2 separate regions of the Homo sapiens genome follow, and region 2 is linked to region 1. The links come from fine-mapping of genetic effects on gene expression. A gene starts in region 1. The other region holds a variant in brackets. All regions are shown on one strand. Distances are between the middles of the regions.

Region 1 (12,503 bases):
GCCGCCATGCCCGGCTAATTTTTTGTATTTTTAATAGAGACAGGGTTTCACCACGTTGGCCAGGCTGCTCTTGAACTCCTGGCCTCACGTGATCCGCCCGCCTCAGCCTCCCAAAGTGCTGGGATTACAGGCATGAGCCACCGCACCCGGCTCCCTGAATATTTTCTACCCGCAAATGCAGACACAGAGGACTGTTTAGTTCCTGTCCTTTTCATGTAGTTTATTTTCTTGATCAGATCTCCTATATACATTTCTTTTAAGGGATTTCTGTTAAACTTTTCCCTGTGGTTGTAAATAGGCTCTTTTCTTCTACTGTATTTTCTAATTGTTCGTTCATATATGGGACAGGGTTTTAAAATTTTAGTCTATAGCAGGTCCTCGAAAGACGTTTCATTCAACTTTGTTTTGTTATAATGTTGATGAGAAGAAAAAACAAAAAGTCTCAGCTGAGGTCACTGTCTGTGTGAAGCTGGCTCATTCTCCCATCTTTATGGGTCTTCTCCAAGTACTCCAGTTTCCTCCCATATCCCAAAGATGCACATGAATGGATGTGTCTACGCGGCCCAGTCTGTGAGCGTGGGTGTAGGTGAGAGCACCCTGTGCTGGGATGGCGTCCAGTTCAGGGCTGGTTCCCAACTTGGACTCTGAATTGCCAAGAAAGGCTCCAGCCATTGAGACCCTGAACTGGAAGAGGGAGGCAAATAATTATCTTTTTATTAATCTTTCTTAAATGTATACACAGCTCACATTCATTCAATTTTTTTTTGAGACAGGGTCTTGCTCTGTCACCGAGGCTGGAGTGCAGTGGTGTGATCACAGCTCACTGCAACCTCCACCTCCCAGGCTCAAGTGGATCCTCCCACCTTAGCCTTTGAGTAGCTGGGACCATAGGCATGCTAATTTTTAAAATTTTTAGTAGAAATCATTTAAATTTTTTTTTTTTTTTGAGATGGAGTCTCGCTCTGTCGCCAGACTGGAGTGCAGTGGCGCGATCTTGGTTCACTGTAACCTCCGCCTCCTCAGTTTAAGCGATTCTCGTGCCTCAGTCTCCTGAGTAGCTGGGACTACAGGTGCGGGCCACTACACCCACTAATTTTTGTATTTTTAGTAGAGACGGGGTTTCACCATGTTGTCCAGGATGGTCTCCATCTCTTGACCTTGTGATCCGCCCACCTTGGCCTCCCAAAGTGCTGGGATTACAGGCGTGAGCCACTGCGCCCAGCTCATTTAAATGTTTAATACTAGAAGTGTTTTGGGTTTTATTTAAAAGTTTAGTGATGTTTTTGTTACCAGAAATATGCCATAGGAATTTAACTCTTCTTTATATTAATTAACCTAGGGTAGGAAGCATCATTACTGAATTATTTTATTCTTCAAAGTTTCTCACTTGATTCTCTGGTATTTCCAGATAAAAAATACGCCATTTGCAAAAAATAACTTTCCTTCTCTAATATTTATGCATCTTTTCTGTTTTGCACTTGCTAGGACTTAAATAATGAAATGTTGAGTGATAGTGGGCACAGAGGTCTTGCTCCAACTCTCCTGGGAATGCTAATGTTTAAGTATGATTCCCATTTTTAGTTTGAGATTTTAAAAAATTACATTATTTTTAATTTATGCCTATGCTATTATTTATTCCTATTCTGTTAATAAAGAAAGCAAGAAGACATTAAATTCCCTCAAAAGACTTTTCAGTATCTAATGAATTGATCTCATGCTTTTTCTCCTTTGACCTATCAATACAGTATTAACATAGAGCCACCTTTGTATTCTTAGCATCTTATTTCTAATTATGATTTGATTATCATGAGGAAAGGACAAGAACATAAAGGACAAGAACCCAAGCCTATCCCAACTGCTATATCCTTTTTATTCAGAATATCAAAAAACATGGCCGGGCGCGGTGGCTCACGCCTGTAATCCCAGCACTTTGGGAGGCCGAGGAGGGCGGATCACGAAGTCAGGAGATTGAGACCATCCTGGCTAACAAGGTGAAACCCCGTCTCTACTAAAAATACAAAAAATTAGCCAGGCATAATGGTGGGCACCTGTAGTCCCAGCTACTCAGGAGGCTGAGGCAAGAGAATGGCGCGAACCCAGGAGGCGGAGCTTGCAGTGAGCTGAGATCAAGCCACTGCACTCCAGCCTGGGTGACAGTGCAAACTCCGTCTCAAAAACAAAAAAACAAAAAAACCCACATACAACCCATTCCCATGTTAAGGTTTAACGTCAATCACATCACACAATAAAATTTTTAGGACTAACAGTGTAGAAAATATACGGTAAGTTGTAAGGCTAACATGCTTTTTAAACAGGGTTAGCCTTTCTGAAATAGAAAATGATTCTGTATCAAAGTTCATATTAATTCTGGAGTTGAGAATCAAAGTGAACCAAATGGCCTTGACTGTTCAGGTTTTCAGAATTATACAGTTACCTAGTCATGGAATTACATAAATTATTCTACAAGTTAATAATATTCAACTGATTCACAACACTACTTCAAAATTTTAAAGTTCAAAATCCAAGTCTGGAAGATAGGGGAGGTGCTAGAATCTTGTGATTAAAAAACAAAGCCCTAAGCATAGGAATTAGTAACAAGTTCTGTTCTACGGCACTGTCTTAGTAAAGTGACCAGCTCTCCATTCCTAGAATAAACAGCGTTCATGTTAGGGTGATCCCCCCTTATCTGTGGTTTTAATTACCTAAGGTCCGAACATATTAAATGAAAAATTCCAGAAATAAATAATTCGTAAGTTTTTTGTTTTGTTTTTGAGATGGAGTCTCGCTCTGCCACCCAGGCTAAAGTGCAGTAGTGTGATCTTGACTCACTGCAACCTCCGCCTCCCAGGTTTAAGTGATTCTCCTACCTGAGCCTCTCAAGTAGCTGGGATTATAGGCACGTGCCACCACGCCCGGCTAATTTTTAATTTTTGGTAGAGACGGGGTTTCACCATGTTGGCCAGGCTGGTCTCAAACTCCTGGCCTCAAGTAATCCGCCCACCTCAGTCTCCCAAAGTGCTGGGATTAGGCATGAACCACTGCACCTGGCCAATTCCTAAGTTTTAAATGGGGCAAGAGCATGTTCTGAGTAGCAAAATGAAAGTTTGCCCCCTCCTGCCTAGGACGTGAATCATCCCTTTGTCCAGTGTATCCATGCTGTATACGCTATCAGCCCATCTTGGTTATTAGATCTAAAAAACATGGTATACTTAGGCTTCGGCAGTGTATACAGACTTCAGTTTCAGGGATTCATTGGGGAGTCTTGCAATGTGTCCCCCTAGGATAAGGGGGAACAACTATAATTGGAAGCATTCCAATTTGTTCTTTGGAGAATACTTTCATTAGAAAAGGTGAAAAACAGTTGGACATGAACGTTTCAATATGAGGAGAGTTGCAGAACATAAAAAGTTTAGGTTTTCTAAAAAGCTATTCTAAGCCGCGCTTGGTAGTGTGCACCTGTAATCCCAGCTTCTCAGGAGGCTGAGGTGGGAAGACCGCTTGAGGCCAGTAGTTAAGAGACCAGCCTGGGCAATATTAGTGGCACTCTGTCTCAAAAAGAAAAATAAATAAAAATATAAAGCTATTCCAAAATATCTGAATCATCGCTAATTATTAAGATGAGGCCAATGTAACCTTGAACTCATAAAAACAATTTATACTCAAGAAAGGCTTTCTTTTTTTTCTTTTTGGAATAATCTAAAGCTATTATTTCCAAAACTTTGTTACCATTTTATAGCATGATCCACCCATCATCTGAAAAACAATACTTTTTATTCTTTGAATAGCAAGAATAGTAATTTTAAAACAGTACAAAATGTCTTTTGACATACACTAGAAAAGTAAAACATAACATTTTTGGAAACTCTCATGGCTGTTAGGGTAAAAATCATGGGTCAGGGAGGAGGGTGGTTAAGAGAGTTGAACTCCATGAATTACCAGTGGAGTTCATGGATATTTCAGACAGCCTTCAAATTGTGATGGAGTGATAAACAGTATGGGACTACACAGTGATGAAACCCGGACATGAATCCTTTTGACGGTTATCTTTTGACAAAAAACTTCTCAATAAGAGACCATTTTCCATCTGTAGAAGTTATAATTCCTGCCCACTGCACAGAAAATAGTAACACACTTAATCTATAAAGTGCTATATACATGTTAGATATTTGTTAGGCGAAATTAAGCGAAATCAAAATTTTTGGGTTGATTTGTTTAGTATGGGGGGATGATATGTATCGTACTGAAAATATAAATTAATGGCCGGGTGCGGCGGCTCAAGCCTGTAATCGCAGCACTTTGGGAGGCCGAGGTGGGTGGATTACTTGAGGCCAGGAATTCAAGACCAGCCTGGCCAATGGTAAAACCCTATCTCAACTAAAAATACAGAAAATTAGCTGGGCGTGGTGGAAGGCACCTGTAATCCCAGCTACTTCGCTTCGATAGGCTGAGGCAGGAGAATCGCTGGAACCTGGGAGGCGGAGCTTACAGTAAGCGACTCCGTCTCCAAAAAAAAAAAAAAAAAAGAAAATATAAATTATAAATTAGAATACATGCTAGTTTTTAGTATTGGCTCATTTATCTGCTTATGTTCCATTTTTTACATTTGGGCAACTCAAAAACGGGGGTTTTGAAATGCTCAAAAATCTGAATCTTTTTGAGTGCCACCATGCCGCTCAAAGGAAATGCTCATTAGAGCATTCTGGATTTTGGATGCTCAACTGGTGTAATGTAAAAAAAATCCAAAATCTGAAACACTTCTGGTCCCAAGCATTTGGGATAAAGGATATGCAACCTGCAATATTTCTTGGCATTTAGTTATATACTTATTGGAACATATATGCCAAACAATGTGTTGGCCTTTAGAGAAATTATAGTATTACATGGAGATTCCTGAGATGTGCTGTCTTTTGCAGTCCATAAGGACCATAAGGAAAGAGCCGGGAGTAGAGGGCGGTGAAATGGGCCCTAGGGAAAGAAGAGCAGTTAGTGTAAAAACTGGGAGAATCTCTGGGGAGGTATAAGCAGTTCAGATGGGTTAGAATATAGCGAGAAAGGGAAGGGTTGTATTAAAGTCTTAGCAGAGTGACCTTAGACGAGGGTTTGAATTATTTCACTAAAAGTCGGCTCATCTGAATGAACCCGAACTATAAAGAACAGGCCATACTATTTGTAAAAAGCACGCAGTTTAAAAAACAAAACAAATAAAAACCAGGCCAGTAATGTTGCGAGGAACTAAATGGGACTCTGTCCAATCAAGTGCCTAAAAAAATAGTGCTTGGGTGGAAAACAAATACCAAATTCTCTTTTCTTTGTATGTGGACATCTAGCTTATAGGTAAAAAAGTAAACGTTAAAGTATGATTATCTAGCTATAACTGCAGCTCTTCACTGGTTGGTTCGGCCAGAGTTGACAAGTCCAACTCTCCAAACTTGAGGCAAAGGAAGATCGGAATCGTACCCACATCATAGATTTGCTGTAAAACTTTTAATAAACAAATCTCTTAGTCGCTGCCTGGAATATAGCAAAACCTCAACAAATATTAGCTTTTATGATGCCTACTTTTAGGTCCATAAATCTTTATCTGCCCTAGTTTGGCACAAAACTTACATGGTGGCAAAATGTGACCTGAAGCTATTTATAGTTTCTATTCGCCCCCACTTAGAATGAATGTTCACATCTATTGCTGCAAATATTAATGTTGGATTATGGGGTGCCCCACTCTGCTGGGGGTGTTATCTCTCGTCTAACATGACTTTCTAAAAAGATGAAGATAAAATCCAAGTATTTTTGAATTCAAAACACACTAGCTTCAAAAGTTTCAGTTAAGAGACTGGGGATGGATTTTACCCATTCCGCCTGGAGTGAGGAAAAGAACATTCCAATATTTGCAATTCACTCCAAGTTTCTGAAGCAAACTCGCTTTGCATTGTGGGCTCAGAGATGCCAGCATGAAAAATTTCTATTCTTCCCCCAAAGAACACCAGTGAACAAAGAACTTATGAAATGTTTCTGAAGGCTACCTTTGCCTGTAATGAGGGTTCCTTTTCGAAACAGACCTTTACAACCCCCAGGTGTGTATTTCTCTAGTAGTAAAACTAAAAAAAATTCTTGCGGTCGAGTGAGCCTGGCTTCATGCTTTAACACTGGAATCTTTACCTATTAAAAGCTGTACTCTTGCTTTTCAAGGTAAAGAGGAAAACGGTCCAGCTATGCATACGCTATCGCAGGTATGTGCTCCTCAGTCCTAAAAAAGGAGATCACTGAATTCTGCCCTTCTCGTGGTTTGCCCTGGGTATTCATCTAATGTATCCGTGAGCAATTCCTCTAGTAAGTCATAACCAGAACGTTGTCACACTGCGGATTAACAAGCGCCCGAGACTCTTGTAAGAATCTTTTCAGGCCTTTCCCTTTTTATTAAAAATTAATGAATGAGTGTAATAGGGTGGGGGTAGAGGGGAAATCGGGGCCAAGGGGCGCGAGGCCGGCAGCCGTTTAGGGACGCACGAACAAAGGGAGTCCGGGATCAACCGGAGCGAACCGGCCTCCTAGCGGGTCGCGCCCGCCGGGAAGGGGTGGGGGAGGGGCCGGCCCGCGCCCGCCCCGCCCCGCAGCCAGACCTGACGTCAGGCGCCCAGAAACCCGTCGGGCGCGACGTCAGCGGCCTCCGACACCTTCTCCCTGGGGGGCGATCCCCAGGCAGCCCGCAGCGTGGAGGAAGGCGACCGATAGAAACGCTTAGTCCTGGTGCCAGGCAGGCGACCACGGCCCGAGCACTGGACGTGACTCGATGCACCTCGGTCACCGCGCCCGCTTCCCGCTTGGCCGCGCCCGCGGGCTCCGCAACCCCAGCTCCCCGATTCCCCTTCACGACTCCCACTAGTACCGAAGCAGCCTCACCCGGCAATATCCGAGACCGCAGTAGGGTCTAGAAGCGGCGATGGGTCCGAGGGACTGGGCCCTGAAGACGCGGGCGCAGCCTGACTGACGGCAGCTAGAGCAGCGGCGGCAACAGCACCAGCAGCGCGCGGCTCCTCCTGGCGCCGGAACAGGAAGCGCCGAGCGCACCGCCTCCGCCCGTTCTCCCCCTCCCCTCAGGCCGCGCCGCGTGCGCCTCCCGCAGGCCCCTGGCGGTACTGCGGCCCGCCAGGCCTAGGGGGATGGGCTCCACCTGGCGCCGGCTCCGGGCCGCTTTCCCCTGGTGGGCGGGCTAAAAGCTCCCAGAGTTTCCGGAGTTCCGAGGACTCGGAGGAAACGCCAGTGGCTGCCGATGTTCACGGCTTCCCGGCGGAAATTGCTAACTTGTCTTGAGTTGCTTGAGGGCTGATTCTGGATTCCTTTTGCTCAGCGGTTTTTACAGCTAGGCCTCGAAGGAGGCTGGGTATGGACGCGGTCTGATTTCGGCCTGACCCGAGGACTCAGATCCTCGGGCCAAAAGTGGGGAGAGGGAAAATATTAATACAGGAAAGGGAAGACGTTTGCAAATAGCTTGACAAATTGATATTTGCTTTCTTTGTAGATTTTTCCTCATCAATGCCTCTTCTCCCATGTTCTTTTTTGTTGTTTTTGAGACAGGGCCTCTGTCACACACGCTGGAGTGCAGTGGCGCGATCTCGGCTCACTGCAACCTCTGCCTGCTGGTCTCAAGCAATCCTCCCATCTTAGCCTCCGAGTAGCTGAGACTGCAGGCATGTGCCACCACATCCGGCTTATTTTTGTGTTTTTGATAGAGATGGGGTCTCACCCTGCTAGCCTCAAGCGATCTGCCCGCTTCGGCCTCCCAAAGAGCTGGTATTACAGGTGTGAGCCACCGTGCCCAGCCGCCATCTTCATTTCTGAATAAACATTACCTCCTGTGTCAGGCACAGATGACATGACCCCAGTCAAGGAACCTACTAACTAGCAATAAAGATGTCGTGATAATTATATGGTGTGCAAAATATATACATATATGCAATATACTTTTTTTTTTTTTTTGAGACGGAGTCTTGCTCTGTCGCCAGGCTGGAGTGCAGTGGCGCGGTGCGATCTCGGCTCACTGCAACCTCCGCCTCCCGGGTTCAAGCGATTCTCCTGCCTCAGCCTCCCAAGTAGCCGGAACTACAGGCGCGCGCTACCTTGCCCAGCTAATTTTTGTATTTAGAGACGAGGTTTCACCACGTTGGCCAGGATGGTCTCGATCTCTTGATCTTGTGATCCGCCCTCCTCGGCAAAGTGCTGGGATTACAGGCGTGAGCCACTGTGCCCGGCCAATATACATTTTTTAAGATATAAAAATATCCTAAAAGTATGTGGTACACTTGCATCTTGCTTTGTGTAAGGCATTAGTGAGTGAGTGGGTGGCCATTTAACCATGAACTTGTTTAAAGGAAGACATCCCTGGATGTTTTCCACAGCACACACAATTCTCACACTGAAAAAGGGGCAACAGAGGAACTTCAAATACCTAAGCCGAGAGTCTTATTTTTGGGTAAGGGCACACAGGCCTATGGAAAATTACACGACTGGTGTGGACCTAGCCTGTTCTCACTGGTGACAGTGAATCAGCAGTGCCTTGAGCCATGCTGAAACCTGAAGCAACAAGAAATCAGTAATCTGGTCAGGTTTGATTTGAAATTTGGTATCTTGCTCATCATAGGCTTTTTTGCATCAATTCAGATATTACAATATTGTACCAAAACATTGTCTTCCTTAGTCGTATAGTCAAATATTTGTCCCTAAGTGCCTCACCATACCCTAGTCCTGGCGCTGTGTACCAGTAATGGATAGCCTCCAACTTTTCCTTGCCTGCAATCAGCCAGTAGCTGAGCACGTTGGAGGGGTCTAGATCTAGGCCATTCCTGTCCCTGTGGGCTTCTCTACAGGCAACCTTTGCTTGGGAACCAAGTCCTCATCTAGCAGTCTCAAGATGCACTGAAGTCCGAAGCTCCCCTACCCAATCCTTCCTTCTAGGTGTCAGACTTTCTGTGTGGTATGAAGAATTCCCCACCTTCTGCTCCCTTCTCTATCTTTCTAGGTGTTTCACTCCAAATAAATCTCTTGCACCTCTAATCACATTTTGGCACCTGCTTCTGGAAGTCCCAAACACAAAAAAACTAAAAGGAGTGTATTATAAATTAGAAAATATGTAAGAATATGGGTTTCTCTATCTTTTTCAGATTCTAAGTTGAATGTGTGAAGTAAAGACTATGTTTTTAAAATAAAACACAAAGCCTTTGGATTTTACATAGGAAGTTTTAATTAAGTAGAAATGAAAATTTATCCAGATCAATTTATTTGAACTTACATCCAAGAAGAAACATTCAACTTAAGGATTAGAAATAAAAGTGGCAATTGTCTACTTCTTTTGTGGTAAGGAATAGATCATACAAGCCTGACTGATGAGAGTAATAGCTTTGTGAAAACTGTATATTCGAGTACATGTGAACTCATACTTGGCTTATACAGAATTTATCCAATTCTAGCAAAGTCAGCATAATTTAAATAAACCTCCTTGAGTTTTACACCATGGCTCTCAAGTCTGAAAGCTTAGATTTGATTATAACCATGGCAAAAGTGATTATCTTTATTTTCTGAAAACGTAATCAACTTTTAAAATAAGTTAAGCAAACATCAGTTTTACACAGACCATATGAAGGGTAGGAGGAAACTGCAATTGTTCCTCTAATTGCAGAGCCTAAACCATAAATTCAAATTGTACTGCTATCTCTACTGTTAAAACAAGTCAAGAAAGTCTTTTACAGTCTAAGAGAAGTGAATGTAATTATGCAGCATCCACTACAAAGATATTTTGAAAACCTATCATCATGTTAGTACTCAATGGCTGTACAGCAATTATTTTAAAGTACGCTCCCAGGGTCACCTCTTGCTGAAGAATTAACTCCAGGAAGTCGAGTTACAAGTATCACCTACATTTTATAGGAAATAAAGGCAAAGATTTAGGACTGAGTCATCTGTTCAAAATTAGAAAGTAAATAAAAAAATAGACTTTGGTTTTATTTGAAAATCCCTTTCTATTGGGTTATATCCATTAATCTACATTTCAACTTCCAAGCCAATCTATTTTAAAAAGTTACCTCCATTTTGTGTCCAATATCTTACTGTATTAGAATAGTACAGGTAGACTCTTGCACTGCTCATTTCTAGTAGGCCATTAATAAAGAAAAGAAAAACCTTTGTGCTTTCTGTTCTTTCCTTAAATTACAAATGTAAAACTGACTTTTTTCCCCCAAAGTAGAAACAGTAGTTTGCTTGACGAAAAATCTTTTATTCACTTGGGCATTACATTACCTAACATTACACAGGCTATTTTGCTTTTAAACATTGTTTTCCTTGTGTTGTCTCCAGGAATCTCTTATAATTTTGTCTATTTTCCTGTGAAATTTGCTTTACCAAAATGAATGCGTAAGCTGTTTATTGGATTCTGACAATAGCTAAAAGCGACAAGAAATATTTTAATGAAAAGTAAGCGTGAGTTAGATCTTGGCCGGGCACAGTGGCTCATGCCTGTAATCCCAGCACTTTGGGAGGCTGAGGCGGGTGGTCACCTGAGGTCAGGAGTTCGAGACCAGCCTGGCCAATGTAGTGAAACACCATCGCTACTAAAAATACAAAAATTAGCTGGGCGTGGTGGCACACGCCTGTCATCTCAGCTACTTGGGAGCTGAGGTAGGAGAATTGCTGGAACCTGGAAGGCAGAGGTTGCAGTGAACCGAGATTGCGCCATTGCACTCCAGCCTGGGCTGACAACAGCGAGACTCTGTCTCAAAAAAAAAGAGATCTCAAGGTTTTTGTTTCATAGGAAGGAAGCTCTCTATTGCGTGGATCTATAAAATGATCCAAACTTCAGAGACAGGAAGCTGATAACTGGATTTATCTTCTTAATGGCTTTGGCTCATGAATAAATGATAATGGTTTATGTGTTTTTCTTATAAAAAGAAATGGAATTTGTATACCGATAGGAGTCCTACTTGCCACATTTGTTCTACTTATTAAGGGATTTCTAATTACTGAGACATTCTTTATATTATTTATAATAAGAAGTCAAAACTTTAACTGAAAGCCATTCTTTGACCACAGTTGGCCATTAGCTGAAATTCAGGAAATAGCACAGGTTTGATCACCAAATCAATAAATCTAGCCACAGGCTGACTAAAAGCTTCCTTTAATCTTCTTCCTATTAGGTCTTCCTTTAAATTAAACCATTCCCTTCATGAATTATTTAAGTGAATGGCATGGTTATAGAAAGATCACATATAACTCTATACAAAAATGCTAAAGGAACCTTAAAAAGTCCATTCAGCATACTTCAGGAATTATACTATGAATCAAGATGCTGTAGGCTTAGAAAAAAATGGGAGTGGGAGTATGTCCTGTAAAGCTTCAGAGAAAAATAGAAAAGTCAAGTTTATTTCCTGATTAGCCCAGGATGATTCCCAAAGCGCAGTTAAGTGTCTGGTCCAGACTAGCTATTAGCGATTAAGTAGTTTCTTTTCACTGTCAAGGCTTTTCCCTGAGGTAATGCCTAAATTCCTAATTTTAATATTTGATCTTATTTCTCTTAGCTCCATCCTCTCTCACCAATAAGCTCTCCACATTTCCACCATGCTAAATGCTTTCTCAACTCTGGAATTTACACTGTTCAAATCTTCCCTTTGTTCAACAGTTATAAAATTTTAGACAAATTTATACATTCCCACATTGTTCCTCTCAAAATTTACTCATTTATATAGTGCAATCAATATATTGTTTACATTTTATATAGGTTAGTTTCTGAATACTGTATGTTCTTCCAAATGTATCCTTACAAAGACACAGAGGAAGGGGGTAACCTTTCTGAATTCCAATTCCTTAATGTTTTAAAAAAAATTATTACTCTTTTCTTTTCCCTTAAACAATTCCCTTCTCAAGTCTTTATGTATCTACTTTCCAAACTTCTTTTCACTGTAGCAAATACCAAAGGAAAAATAAAAATCATTTCAGAGTCAATGAATCTCCTCCCTGCTCTCATTTATTAGATCAACTACTTCAAGGCTACATATGTGGCAGTACTTTTTAAGTGTTAACAGCTGTTAATACCTTGAAGTTGAAAAAATAAAAAAGCCAGAGAAAACATATCACAAGCAATCAGTTTGAATTATATGAAAAGGTACTTAGATCTTGACTTTCATATAAATACTAATTTTAACACTATAAAAGACAACATAACTATATATCATTTTTCTTTATAAAACTACCCCTTAACAGAATATTTGTAAGCTAGTCATCCCTTAGGTTTTTCTGTACTGATAAAAAGTTATTTTTAAAAGAAAAATATTTAAAATAATTGTTTCACAGAAACAGAAAATCTTATCAAATTCTGATAAAAAACTATAATCATGGGTACTCTTACCACACTATTTTCTTTCACCAAAGATGGATATTTAGGAAGTGGTATATTGGTTAATAAGATAAGCTTCTCAGTGATCTACAAAAGCGCCACAATAAAGATGAGGTAGTATGAGACT
Region 2 (12,503 bases), 23 kb before region 1:
CCCAAAGTGCTGAGACTACAGGCGTGAACTACCACGCCCAGTCCTGTTTTTAATTGTATGCATTCTAGTAAGTGTGTAGTGGTATCTCTTTGTATCTCTCTCCCCAAGCCCTGGCAGCCACCAACCCACCTCTATAGATTTGACTATTCTGAATATTTTATATACATAGAATCACAGTATATGCAGCCTTTTGTGACTGGTTTCTTTCACTTAGCATAATGTTTTCAAGGTGCATCAAGTTATAGCATGTATCAGAATTTCATGTCCATTTATGGCTGAATAATATTCCATTGATGGGAATACCACATTTTGTTTATCCATCAGTTGATGGACATTTAGGTTGTTTCTACTTTTTGGCTGTTATGGACAATGCTGCTATCAACATTTGTGCACAGGTGTTTGTGTGGACATATATTTTCATTTTTCTTGGGTGTATATCCCTAGGAGTAGAATTGCTGGTCATACAGTAACTTTATGTTTAACCTTATGAGGAACTTCCAGGCCAGTGGTGAGGTTCAAGCAAGGGAAGGAGGAGGTTCTGGGTCAATGGTACATATTTGCTCTATTGGAGAGAAGCAATTGGCCAAAATTGTAGCTTGTCATTAGTCTGTTGAACAGCCATGGATTTTCATTACTTGGGCAGAGAACACATGAAGCCAGGCTAGATATCACCAATGGGTGACCATATTAAAGACTTGTGAATATTGGTATTTAATGTATCACTATTTAGTGCCCAGGTCCCCCTTATGTATGTTTATTACCACGTGTACTCTTGGTTCTCCCAGCTTTTTTCATCTATGTTTAACCCACACATTTTCTAGATGCCAATTACTGATTTATACTTGATATCTTATGAGTTCATCCCATTTCTTCTATAAAATAATTGAATATTTTGAAACTATATATCAAATGCATATTAAACCCTTCCCCTCTGTAATTCATTTCTGCATGACACCACACTTACTTTGTACACAATGCTGAATAAATGTTAAATAAAAAATAAGCAGGGTGGGACCTGTAATCCCAGCACTTTGGGAGGCCGAGGCAGGAAGATTGCTTGAGCCCAAGAGTTTGAGACTAGCCTGGGCAACATGACAAAAACCCATCTCTACTAAAAATACAAAAATTAGCTGGACATGGTGGCACACACTTGCGGTCCCAGCTACTTGGGAAGCTGAGGTGGGAGGATCACCCAAGCCCGGGAGGCGGAGGTTACAGTGAGCCGAGATTGCTCCACTGCACTCCAGCCTAGGCGACAGAGTGAGACTTTGTCTCAAAAAAAATTAAAATAAAAATGAGCAATAATCTCTGGTAGTCCTGCCATAGAAATAAGCAGTTATTCAAACAAAAATTTCCTGTGATTAAGTACTTGGGAAATACTGGTTTTTTGTTGTTTTTGTTTTTTTTTACTATAGGACTTGCTAGCCCCTTAATGTACTAATGTGGTGGTACTTCTTCATGAATGGATTTCACATTCAGTGTCCTCAAACTTACTGATCCATGGAACCCTTTACTCAAGGTGCAGCTCTAGAAATTGGTGTTGTATAAAATACACCTTGGGAAATGTTGCCTTGGGGATTGCTCTGTGCAAGGCCTTGGAAGTATAGCTGTTTACTACAGCAGCCATAGACTGAACAGCTGAACTGAAATTCCTCCGGGTACCTTTTATAAAGTATAAACATCCCACTTTTCTGGTTTGTTTTTTTGTTTTTTGTTTTTTGCTTTTTTTGGTCTCACTCTGTCACCCAGGCTGGAATGCAGTGGTGTGATCTTGGCTCACTGCAACCTCCGCCTCCCAGGTTCAAGCAATTCTCCTGCCTCAGCCTCCCGAGTTGCTGGGACTACAGGCACACGCCACCATGCCTGACTAATTTTTTGTATTTTAGTAGAGACAGGGTTTCACCATGTTGCCCAGGCTGATCTCGAACTCCTGAGCTCAGGCAATCTGCCCACCTCAGCCTCCCAAAGTGCTAGGATTACAGGCGTGAGCCACTGCGCCCAGCCTATTTTTAAAAACAATAACAAGAAGCAAGATAGGGAAATTGAAGTGACTTGGGGTATGAGCTGACTAAATTATGCAATCAAGGGTTTTTCTAATTTCTCCTTTTGAGTAAATACAGGAATAATGTCCCATCCCCTAAACAGCACAGTGCTGAGACTAATTCTTTGACAAATATTAGGCACGTTGAAAGATATTAGGTTCATAAAAAGGAGACTTCAGGCAAGGCGTGGTGGCTCAAGCTTGTAATCCCAGCACTTTGGGAGGCTGAGGTGGGTGGATCACCTGAGGTCAGGAGTTCGAGACCAGCCTAGCCAACATGGTGAAACCCTGTCTCTACTAAAAATACAAAAAGTAGCCGGATGTGGAGGCACATGCCTGTAATCCCAGCTACTCGGGAGGCTGAGGCAGAAGAATCACTTGAACTCGGGAGGCGGAGGTTGTAGTGAGCTGAGATCGCACCATTGCACTCCAGCCTGGGTGACAAGAGCGAAACTCTGTCTCAAAAAAACAAAAAGAAAAACAAAAAAAAACCCAGAAAGACTTCCTCTTCCACCTGGCTGGAAAAATATGCCTAATAGAACACCAGGAAACCCAAATCTCCGTGCGAAGCGTCTCCCTCATATGGTTAGCCTGGAGAGCCAAGGGATCCTAAAACTTAAAACTGAGTTTATTGGAGCTCTCTGTATTGTAGATGGGAGAACAGCTAACTTAATCTAGTAGACAGAATATAGGGACAGAAACAGAGCCAATCATAGGTCTTCTACCCTATCATGCTCCGTTTCACATCCTCTGGCCCCAACACTATCAACATATAGGCAGGTATTGCTGCTCCTGACCCATACCATCCTGCATACAGGATTGTCTCTCCCCCTTGCCCTTTTTGCAGTCTCTTCTTGCACCCTTCCCTAAGCATATCTCCAGCCTGAATCCTGCTCAGCTGTCAAATTTCAGCTCAAATGTCATTTCCTCTGGTGAGCTTTCCTTGACTCCAGAATACTGTTACACATTATTTCCCCATCGCTCATTACAAATGTAATTTATATTATTTAGTGATTGTCTCTTCCACTAGCTTGTAAACTACACAAGGGCAGAAACCATTTAACTTGTTCAGTATTGAATTTCCAGGATGTGGCACAGAGTAAGTAGTAAAAAAATACCAGTTAGTTGCTCACACCAGTAGCCCTAGCTACTCAGGAGGCTGAGGTGGGAGGGAGTATCGCTTGAGCCAGGGAGTTTGAGGCTGCAGTGAGCTATGATCGAGCCACTGCACTCCAGCCTGGGTGACAGGGCAAGACCTTGTCCCCCAGAAATAATAATAATAAAATAAATAGGCCGGGCACAGTGGCTCACACCTGTAATCCCAGCACTTTGGGAGGCTGAGGCAGGCGGATTATGAGGTCAAGAGATCGAGACCATCCTGGCCAACATGGTGAAACCCCATCTCTACTAAAAATACAAAAATTAGCTGGGCATGGTGGTACGCACCTGTAGTCCCAGCTACTCAGGAGGCTGAGGCAGGAGAACTGCTTGAACCCGGGAGGTGGAGGTTGCAGTGAGCTGAGATTGCACCACTGCACTCCAGCCTGGCGACAGAGCGAGACTCCATCTAATAAAATAAAATAAATAAATAAAAAATAAATAGGCCAGGCGCAGTGGCTCCCACCTGTAATCCCAACACTTTGGGAGGCTGAGGCGGGCAGATCACCTGAGGTCAGGGGTTTGAGACCAGCCTGGCCAACATGGAGTGAAACCCCATCTCTACTACAAATACAAAAATTAGCCAGGTGTGGTGGCAGGTGCCTGTGTAATCCCAGCTACTCGGGAGGCTGAGGCAGGAGAATTGCTTGAATCCGGGAGGCAAAGGTTGCAATGAGCTAAGCTTGTGCCACTGCACTCCAGCCTGGGTGACAAAGTGAGACTCCGTCTCAAAAAAATAAATAAAAATAAGTAATAAATACATACATACCAGTAAGTTGAACGACTAAAACCTAGGTGCTAAAATATCTTTGCTCATTTATCTTAGGCCTGTTCTATCTTTCTTTGTCCTAGGACAAAATCTTATCAACTCCTTTGTCCAAAGCTCAAATCCCTCGAGACTCATTCCAGGAAGCCTTCTCTTGCCGATTCCCCAGTCAGAGTAGTTGTTGGCCTTCGTGGACACAGGCTAATCTCTCATGTAATCCCAAATGAGCTGGGAAAAGCCGTGCTCTTTTAGAATATGAGGTATTCAGAGTTGCTAGTGGGCCTGAAACTCTGTAATGAATAGCTCATGTGTACTCCCAAAACCCAGCAAGAAGGAATAGTGCAGCTGTGGGCAGCCAAGAAGCAAGTCGTGTTCACAGGTATGTGGCTGACGTCAGTGCGGATAACTCATGAAAGCTGTTCCAGGGTGGAGCTGTTCTCTGGAATGTTGGGAACACAGCTACTCAGAGGTACAATTGTGACACTGGACTTCCTCCCCAGACGGGGCGCCTGCCTGCCCTTCATCTGTTGCCGAAACTCACTCACATACCCAGGCCTGGGGCTTGCGATTTTTCTAATCCATCCCCAAGGTGAGCTGCTTTCAAACAGGGTGTGGAATTGATTTGGAAATATGGCCAGGTGCAAAGTAGCGTGAGGTGAGGAGACAGATGTTCTTTTGGACTCTCTTTCTCCGAGACAGGTCTTTTTCTGAAGTGCCTTAAAATATTAATGGTGCCCTGCGTGATAAAGGGGAAAGAGCATGGCTCTGCACTCCACAGGCTGTGAATTTTTACCCCTTGCTTATGTTGTTGTGAGGACACAGTGAGTGTGAGTAAAGGCCTTGGGTAAGGGGCGGGGCTTATAGGGCATTGCTAAGGGAGAAAACAGAAAACAAAGCATGTGGGTGACTGTCTGAGACATCACTAGTGTTCAACAAATGGTAGCTGTTTCACTATTAGGTGCTCCTCGGGTGTACTCAGAGCAATCCGTGCCTCCTGCATCAGTAACATCACACCTGCCTATTTTTCTGTTTCTTCTGCTAAACTGTAACACTCTTGTAGGCCCAATACCTAGAAAAATGCCTTTCAGCTCCCATGATAAGCTCACATCTGATGTCAGGTGCCAACTGCTTCACATGGATGACTTCATTTAATTCTCGTAACCCTGTGGAGTTAGGCATGAGTGTAATCCTCATTTTATTTTATTTTTTATTTTTTTGTGTGGAGTTTCATTTTTGTTGCCCAGGCTGGAGTGCAATGGCGTGATCGTGGCTCACTGCAACCTCCACCTCCTGGGTTTAAGTGATTCTCCCGCCTCAGCCTCCCGAGTAGCTGGGATTACAGGTGCCCACCACCACGCCTAGCTAATTTTTATATTTTTTAGCAGAGATGGGGTTGAAACCCCGTTGGCCAGACTGGTCTCAAACTCCTAACCTCAGGTGATCCGCCCGCCTCGGCCTCCCAAAGTGCTGGGATTACAGGCGTGAGCCACCACGCCCGGCCCTCATTTTATAGCTGAATAAGCAAAGGCACTACAAGGTTAAGTAATTCAGCCAGTGTGATCTATGTAGTAAGCAGTGGAGTCACGATTTAAACACAGCTGGCCAGGTTCCAGAACCTGTGCTCTTTACCTCTGTTTTTGTTTGTTTGTTTGTTTTCTTTTGTTTTTTTTTTTTTTTTTTTTTTTGAGATGGAGTCTCGCTGTGTCGCCCAGGCTGGAGTGCAGTAGCACTATCTCGGCTCACTGCAACCTCCGCCTCCCAGGTTCAAGCAATTCTTCTGTCTCAGCCTCCCAAGTAGCTGGCGCTACAGGCACGCACCACCACGCCCAGCTAATTTTTGTATTTTTAGTAGAGATGAGGTTTCACCACGTTGGCCAGGCTGGTCTCAAACTCCTGACCTCAAGTGATCCTCCCACCTCAGCCTCCCAAAATGCTGGGATTACAGGCGTGAGACACCACGCCCAGCCTGCTCTCTACCTCTATACTACGCTGCCTCTGTCCTCACTCTAATTATGTTTTTCTCATTTTTCTCCCTAATAGCACAGTGAAAAATACCATCCCTATTGTCTTCCGTATTTGTGGGGCTATCTTTATTCTGCGATTCTTGTTGTACTGGCTCAACATAATGCTTTACACAATTGAATGCTTGACAATTGCCTCCCCATTGGTGCAGAGCTGGGTCTGGCATGCTGGGTTTATGACCCAGTTATGCTCTTTCACAAAAACATTTCTGGATGCCATTGTCAGACAGGACACTAGACTGAGTGGACTACTGGGAAGACCCTTTTATGCTCTTGTGTTCTAAATGACAGCCCTGTTTCCTAAAGTAATTGAGATTTTCAGTTATCAGCATAAAAGGAAACCATGGATGCTAGGCACAGCCTCGTGCTACTGTTACATGCCTCAGACATCAGTCACCACTGAAGTTAGGCTTGTCTGCCTCTCTCAAAGACAGTCTGAGTGAAACTGGAGTTTTCTTTCAATATTAGGTTCTCAGGTCCCATATGCTTTTAAAAACATGTAAATTATATATGCAAGAGAATGACATATATTTGGAGTTAAATAAGTCAAATGAATACTCATGTATAGCCACCATCCCACTCAACTCAATAGAATATTACCAGAATCTCAGGCTAAGCGCGGTGGCTCATGCCTGCAATATCCCAGCACTTTGGGAGGCCGAGGTGGGTGGATTGCTTGAGCCCAGGAGTTTGAGACCAGCCTGGGCCACATGCTGAAAACCCATCTCTACAAAAAAAATCAGCTGGGCCTAGTGGTGCATGCCTGTAGTCCCAGGTACCAGAGAGGCTGAGGTGGGAGGATTGCTTGAGGGGAGGTCAAGCCTGCAGTAAGCCGTGATTGTGCCACAGCACTCCAGCCTGGGCGACAGGGCAAGACTCTATCTCAAAAAAAAAAAAAAAAAAAAAAAAGTGTGTGTTTGTGTGTGTGTATATATATATGTGTGTGTGTGTATATATGTGTGTGTGTGTATATATATCCAGAATCTATCCTCTCCCCACTGCGTCCTTCTCCCACTCCTCCCCCGGCAATTCTAACATGCTTTTCATTATAAAGTATTAGCTGTTTGAAAGCGATAATTTTTCTGATGACTACTGTATATCAGATGTGATTCCTAAGTACTTTGTGTTATAAAAGGTGCTAGCAGCAAAAGAATATTCAAACTTGTATTTTGAAGTTTCATTTTCAACGTGAACTGATACTGTCAGTGAGCTGCTTTCTATTCT[A/G]ACTTTACAACCACAGTGCTGCAGCATAATAGTGTGCTGAGAACACGTGTCTTTAAATTGTGGATGTGCAAAATTTTGCCACAAATTGGGGACATGTACTTCTGTGGCAGTGACTGCCAGAATGTTAAGATGACCGGTGCTGCAGATGGGGAAGAGCAGATGCAAACAGCAGGAGTGAAGAGGTGACTGTAACATGAAGCCAGGGCCACAGATAGATTGTTTCCTGCAACACGTAAGAACTTTGCTGTGTAACTATGTGAGAGAACTCGGCCATGGCAGCAGATGCTCTCCTCAAACACCCTGATGAATACTAGTGTGGTAACACCTGAAGCATTTAATCCTTACAGGAGAGCCACAAGTTCTAGTATTCAAAAATGCACCTCAAGCACCAAAAAGTTGACAACTCTTACCCGGCCACTAGATATTTCTGAAATGATTTAACAAGTTTTTGCTATTTCCCTGCCATTCAAGTATCGTATGAAATAATAATTTCACTGTCCCCTAGTCCCTCTTTACTGTGAATTAGAAACAAAACGTGTATGTCACCCCAGGGTTGGAGGAAATGAAATGTAATTCTATTACATATTTGGTAATATTTATATGCAGCAGCCAGAGACCCTCCAAAATTGGACATAAGCCAGGCGCGGTGGCTCCTGCCTGTAATCCCAGAACTTTGGGAGGCCGAGGCAGGAGGATTGCTTGAACCCAGGAGTTCAAGACAAGCCTGGGAAACATAGCAAGACCCCATCTCTAAAATACAATAAAATGGACATAATTTTTGGTACTACTCAGTTTGTAAGGGGATTAAGTTGGGGGAAAAACTTAGGGCTTTAAGGGAAATTGCTTTCTGACTTGGGAGGGAAAAAGACATAATTGTGGCTATGTGGCAGAAACCTTTGGAGAGGTGCCCAGAAAAGTAGAAAGCCCTGTTCCAACCCTCTTTCTCTATCTAGCTCCTCTATCTTAGAAGACATGACTCCCTGTTCCAAGACTGGGACGTGCTTGCTTCTTGCCGTTGGGACTTACTGAAGATAATGTAGCTACAATTCAGTGACTTGGATATGGTTCTTCACCTTTATAAGATGCAGTCTGAGTAGCACCCTAAATAATATAGTCATCTCTCAGTATCCACAGGGGATTGGTTCCAGGACCCTCCTGGGATACCAAAATCCACAGATGCTTGGGTTGCTGATATTAAATGGTGTCGTATTTGCCTGTAAACTACGCACATCCTCCCTTATACTTTAAATCATATCTAGATTACTTAGAATACCTAATACAATGTAAATGCTAGCACATAGTTGCTATATTGTATTTTACATTTTGTATTATTTATTGTTGTTTTCCTTCGAAATATTTTCCACCTGAGGTTGGTTGAATCCCCAGATGCAGAACCCACAGATACAAGCGGCCGACTGTATGTGAATGAAGGGGTAACTTCTACAGTAAAACATGTTTTTTAGGACAAGTTTTTTCTCTGAGGAAATAAAATCTTCACTGGTACTCTTTTTTTGTTATATTTAGGACAACCATGTGACTTATCACAAACACCAGGACACTTTTGTGGATGCAAGGGAGGTGCTTTAATAATTATACCTGGAGTCTGGGCGTGGTGGCTCACGCCTGTAGTCCCAGCACTTTGGGAGGCCAAGGTGGGTGGATCACCTGAGGTCAGGAGTTCGAGACCAGCCTGGCCAACATGGTGAAACCCTGTCTCTACTAAAAATACAAAAACCAGCTGGGTGTGGTGGTGGGCACTTGTAATCCCAGCTACTTGGGAGGCTGAGGCAGGAGAATCGCTTGAACCCAGGAGGCGGAGGTTGCAGTGAGCCGAGATCATGCCATTGCATTTCAGCCTGGAGGGAAAAAGCAAAACTCTGTCTCAAAAAAAAAAAAAAAAAAAAAATTATACCTGGCAAACAGGAACCAGAATGATTCCAGGCCATATATCCAACTGGGACATATAACCACTTGCTTAGAGCACAAGGTTGGTGGTTAATAAATATTAGGATCACATTGTGTACTCCCTGCTCCCCCCGGCATGTGAGGTAAGAGCTAATCACATTGTGTAACATTTAATCCTTAATGTTGATCACCTAATTTTTATTTTTTTGAGACAGGGTCTTACTCTGTCACTCAGGCGTGGTGCCATCATGGCTCACTGCTACGTCTGCTTCTTGGGCTCATGTGATCCTCCCACCTCAGCCTCCCAAGTAGCTGGGATTATAGGCATGAGCCACCACGCCTGGGTGATAATCTGATTTTTAAAAAAGGAATATTCATATAGAGCTACTATATTAGATGTGCATTGTTTGGGGTATGCTAACATACCTAGTGGATCTCTAGCTAGAGGGAATGAAGAATGTTTTTTCCCTCATGGTACTTTGAGCATTATTATGTTTATAGGTAAGGGAAGTGAGCACAGGAAGCTAATCAGTTGCCGTAAATCACACACCAGAGCTGAGCTCAAAGCTTAAAATAAAAACCCTAAAAAACAAATTCGTGACCCAACACTGATTTAAAAAGAAAAGTAAAAAATAAAAATACCAACTCTGCCCTGTGAATCCCCAGCAATTGTGTTGCTCGCTGAACCATGAAGGGCTGCCCTTTAGAATTTGATCACAGAGGCATCGAAGGTGGAGACTTATTACCCCTTTCAGACGAGAAATCTTATGCTGGGAAGCTGCTTTTCCTAGTTCGCACAAGTCCTCTTCATTCCACTTCTATAAAAAGCCCAAGTAAGAGTCCTAATCGTTAGTCATGCAGTTTAGTCTTTTTGTAGATTTGAGCATTCAAGAAAGGACGCAGGTGATTCATTAAGCTTAGTACTTGGGGTTTTTGTGTGTTGCAGTAACTAAGCAACAGTTAAGATATTTTAACTTAGCATGTCCTGCATTGGCACGTTTAAAAAAAGAACTGTCATGCCGTGCTTGGCAGAACCTCACTCTGACTCTTCCACACTCTGTGCAGTTCCTGTACATCTTGGCTGCCCATCCACTGCTAACAGAGACCTCTTCTGTCTCAGCTGCTCTGACAGCCTTGGCCTAGTGTGTGCCACTGCAGGGTAGCTGGATATCCATGTCTCCAATGACTGGTAACTGCAAAGGCTGGACCTGGAACTAGTGGTTTGATCATCCACTACCTTAATTCTCTCATTCACATTTTAAACCCACTCTTAACTGCTATACCTTTGAACATTTGCCTTTATGAAAACACAACTCAAGTTCTAGGTTAGCACTTGAAGAACTGTGATTATTCACAAAACCATGCATTTCAAACATAACCATTAGCTTTTTTTTTTTTTTTTAACTGAATATCCGATGAAACTCACTAAATGAAGTGTGAGAGGTCTGCTACATAACATTCAATTTAGATAGATTTGATTGTCCAGATAGTTTTGGAAGAACTGCAGTACTAGATGCCTGAACAAAAAAAATAGAACCTAGTGGATAAACTCTAAGCCTTGATAACAGAAGCACTGGTTCATTATTTATGTGGTATGACTCTGGGAATTTAACCTCTAAACAGGATCTTGCTCTGTCGTCCAGGCTGGAGTGCAGTGTAGCCTCTAACTCCGGGGCTCAAGTGATCCTGCCACCTTGGCCTCCTGAGTAGCTGGGACTAGAGGCACATGCCACCACACCTGGCTAATTCTTCAATTTTGGCTTGTGGAGATGGGGTCTTGCTATGTTGTCCAGGCTGGTCTCAAACTCCTGGCTTCAAATGATCCTCCTGCCCTGGCCTTTCAAAGTGTTGGGATTACACAGGCATGAGTCACTGCGTATCTCTTTTAAACTTGGTTTCCTTATCTCTAAAGTGGCTTTTAAATCTACGTATCTTTAAGGAAAGCTAGACTATATGACCATTAAATAAAACGACAAGCTCTGACATAAAACATAATCAGAGCAAAACTTAAAATGTTCTATTTCCTCTTTTCTTACGTAAAACTAAGTATGGCTTAGAATCCCATATGACCCAATTCTATTACACTTGGGAACCTCTGACTATGATCTAAATAAACCTCAAGTAGCAGACATGGTCATTTATAATGGTAGTTTTTTAAAATTTAAAAGCAGCAAATCTGTCCCCTTCCTGAAGCAACTTATCAGTAAGGAAAATACACGAAGTGCAGAGTGGAACTGCTCTAGGGAAAGCAGGGAGAGACTAAGCGTTATAAGCTCTACTTGGTCCTCTCCTCAGCACTGGGAAAATCAATTTTCCCAAATGAGAGAAAAAAGTTTAAGTGCCACGAGGGCCAGGCATGGTGGCTCAAGCCTGTAATCCCAGCACTTTGGGAGGCTGAGGCAGGCGAATCACCTGAGGTCAGGAGTTTGAGACCAGCCTGGTCAACATGGCAAAACCCCATTTCTAGTAAAAATACAAAAACTAGCTAGGACTGGTGGTGTGCACCTGTAATTCCAACCACTTGGGAGGCTGAGGCAGGAGAATCGCTTGAACTCGGGAGGCGGAGGTTGCAGTGAGCAGAGATTGCATCACTGCACTCCAGCCTGGGCGACAGAGTGAGACTGTCCCAAAAATAAGTAAAAGCCACAGGAATAAGCTCTATGAGATGACCCAAATCCTCTCCTGGCACTCGAATTCTATTGCATGCCTTATTTAAAATAAGTGAGCTAAGATTTAGAATTCTATTTTGCTTTGGAGATCAGTTGCAAAAGGATTGGTGCTAAGAGTATTAATACGGTGATAAAAAAGGACTTGCCTGGGTCAGGTAACCCACGATAGCATGTTTGTCAGAGCAATGTCATCTCACAACAGGAAAAAAAGAAACTGGCCCTGCTCCAGAATGGTCTTATTATTTCACCATCCATTTCATAACTCCACTTTAGGTGAATACTTTCATGGGATATTGAATAACATATCAAAAACAATTTAAAATTTTACAGCTGCATTTTGTCCAATCATAAGGCAAAAAGCAGAAATTCCTTCCAAAAGTAGCACTGCAAAGTATTCATTCATTCATTGCCCTACTGAAATTGGGAGTTCCAAGGAATGCCAGCGAAATCTCCTGTGGGAAAATGGTAAACTCCAAGTTTAATAATGTGACCCTCACTAAATGCGTAGCAGTTAATGATAAAAGTAGAACTATCTTTCATAACAGAAAGTGGGGGAGTGAGGGGAGTAGGGACAGACAGAGAAAGTTCCCTGACTTCATATTATCATATATACGGATAATCTGGTTACCAAGAGTAGCCTAGCCTTAAAAGAAGAGAAAATCACCACAATGGACACCATGTTGCTGAGAGGGTTTGCGGAGGAAGGGTGGTTTCCAGAT

The links. PIP is the estimated chance that this variant, and not a neighbour inherited with it, causes the effect.
Region 2: its variant is the best candidate, but not a certain one, in a credible set for the expression of MAPK1IP1L in blood mononuclear cells (TOPMed, PIP 0.59).

What each region holds. Positions count from the first base shown.
Region 1 is chr14:55,046,198-55,058,700 of GRCh38, reverse strand. MAPK1IP1L (mitogen-activated protein kinase 1 interacting protein 1 like) reads right to left here and starts at 7,054. Exons shown (of 4, transcript NM_144578.4): 1 at 6,898-7,054. It overlaps SOCS4 (suppressor of cytokine signaling 4), which reads right to left. Exons shown (of 3, transcript NM_199421.2): 3 at 9,212-12,503. RefSeq lists silencers at 6,484-6,643, 6,994-7,233 and enhancers at 7,264-7,463, 7,003-7,692.
Region 2 is chr14:55,069,695-55,082,197 of GRCh38, reverse strand. MAPK1IP1L (mitogen-activated protein kinase 1 interacting protein 1 like) reads right to left here. Exons shown (of 4, transcript NM_144578.4): 4 at 12,004-12,503. Among named protein-coding and RNA genes, the nearest start is that of MAPK1IP1L, 24 kb to the right of the region's middle. RefSeq lists enhancers at 3,792-4,293, 4,316-4,815, 3,734-4,933, 7,477-7,606, 9,865-9,984 and 1 more. The variant A/G (reference allele first, on the strand shown) is at 7,211.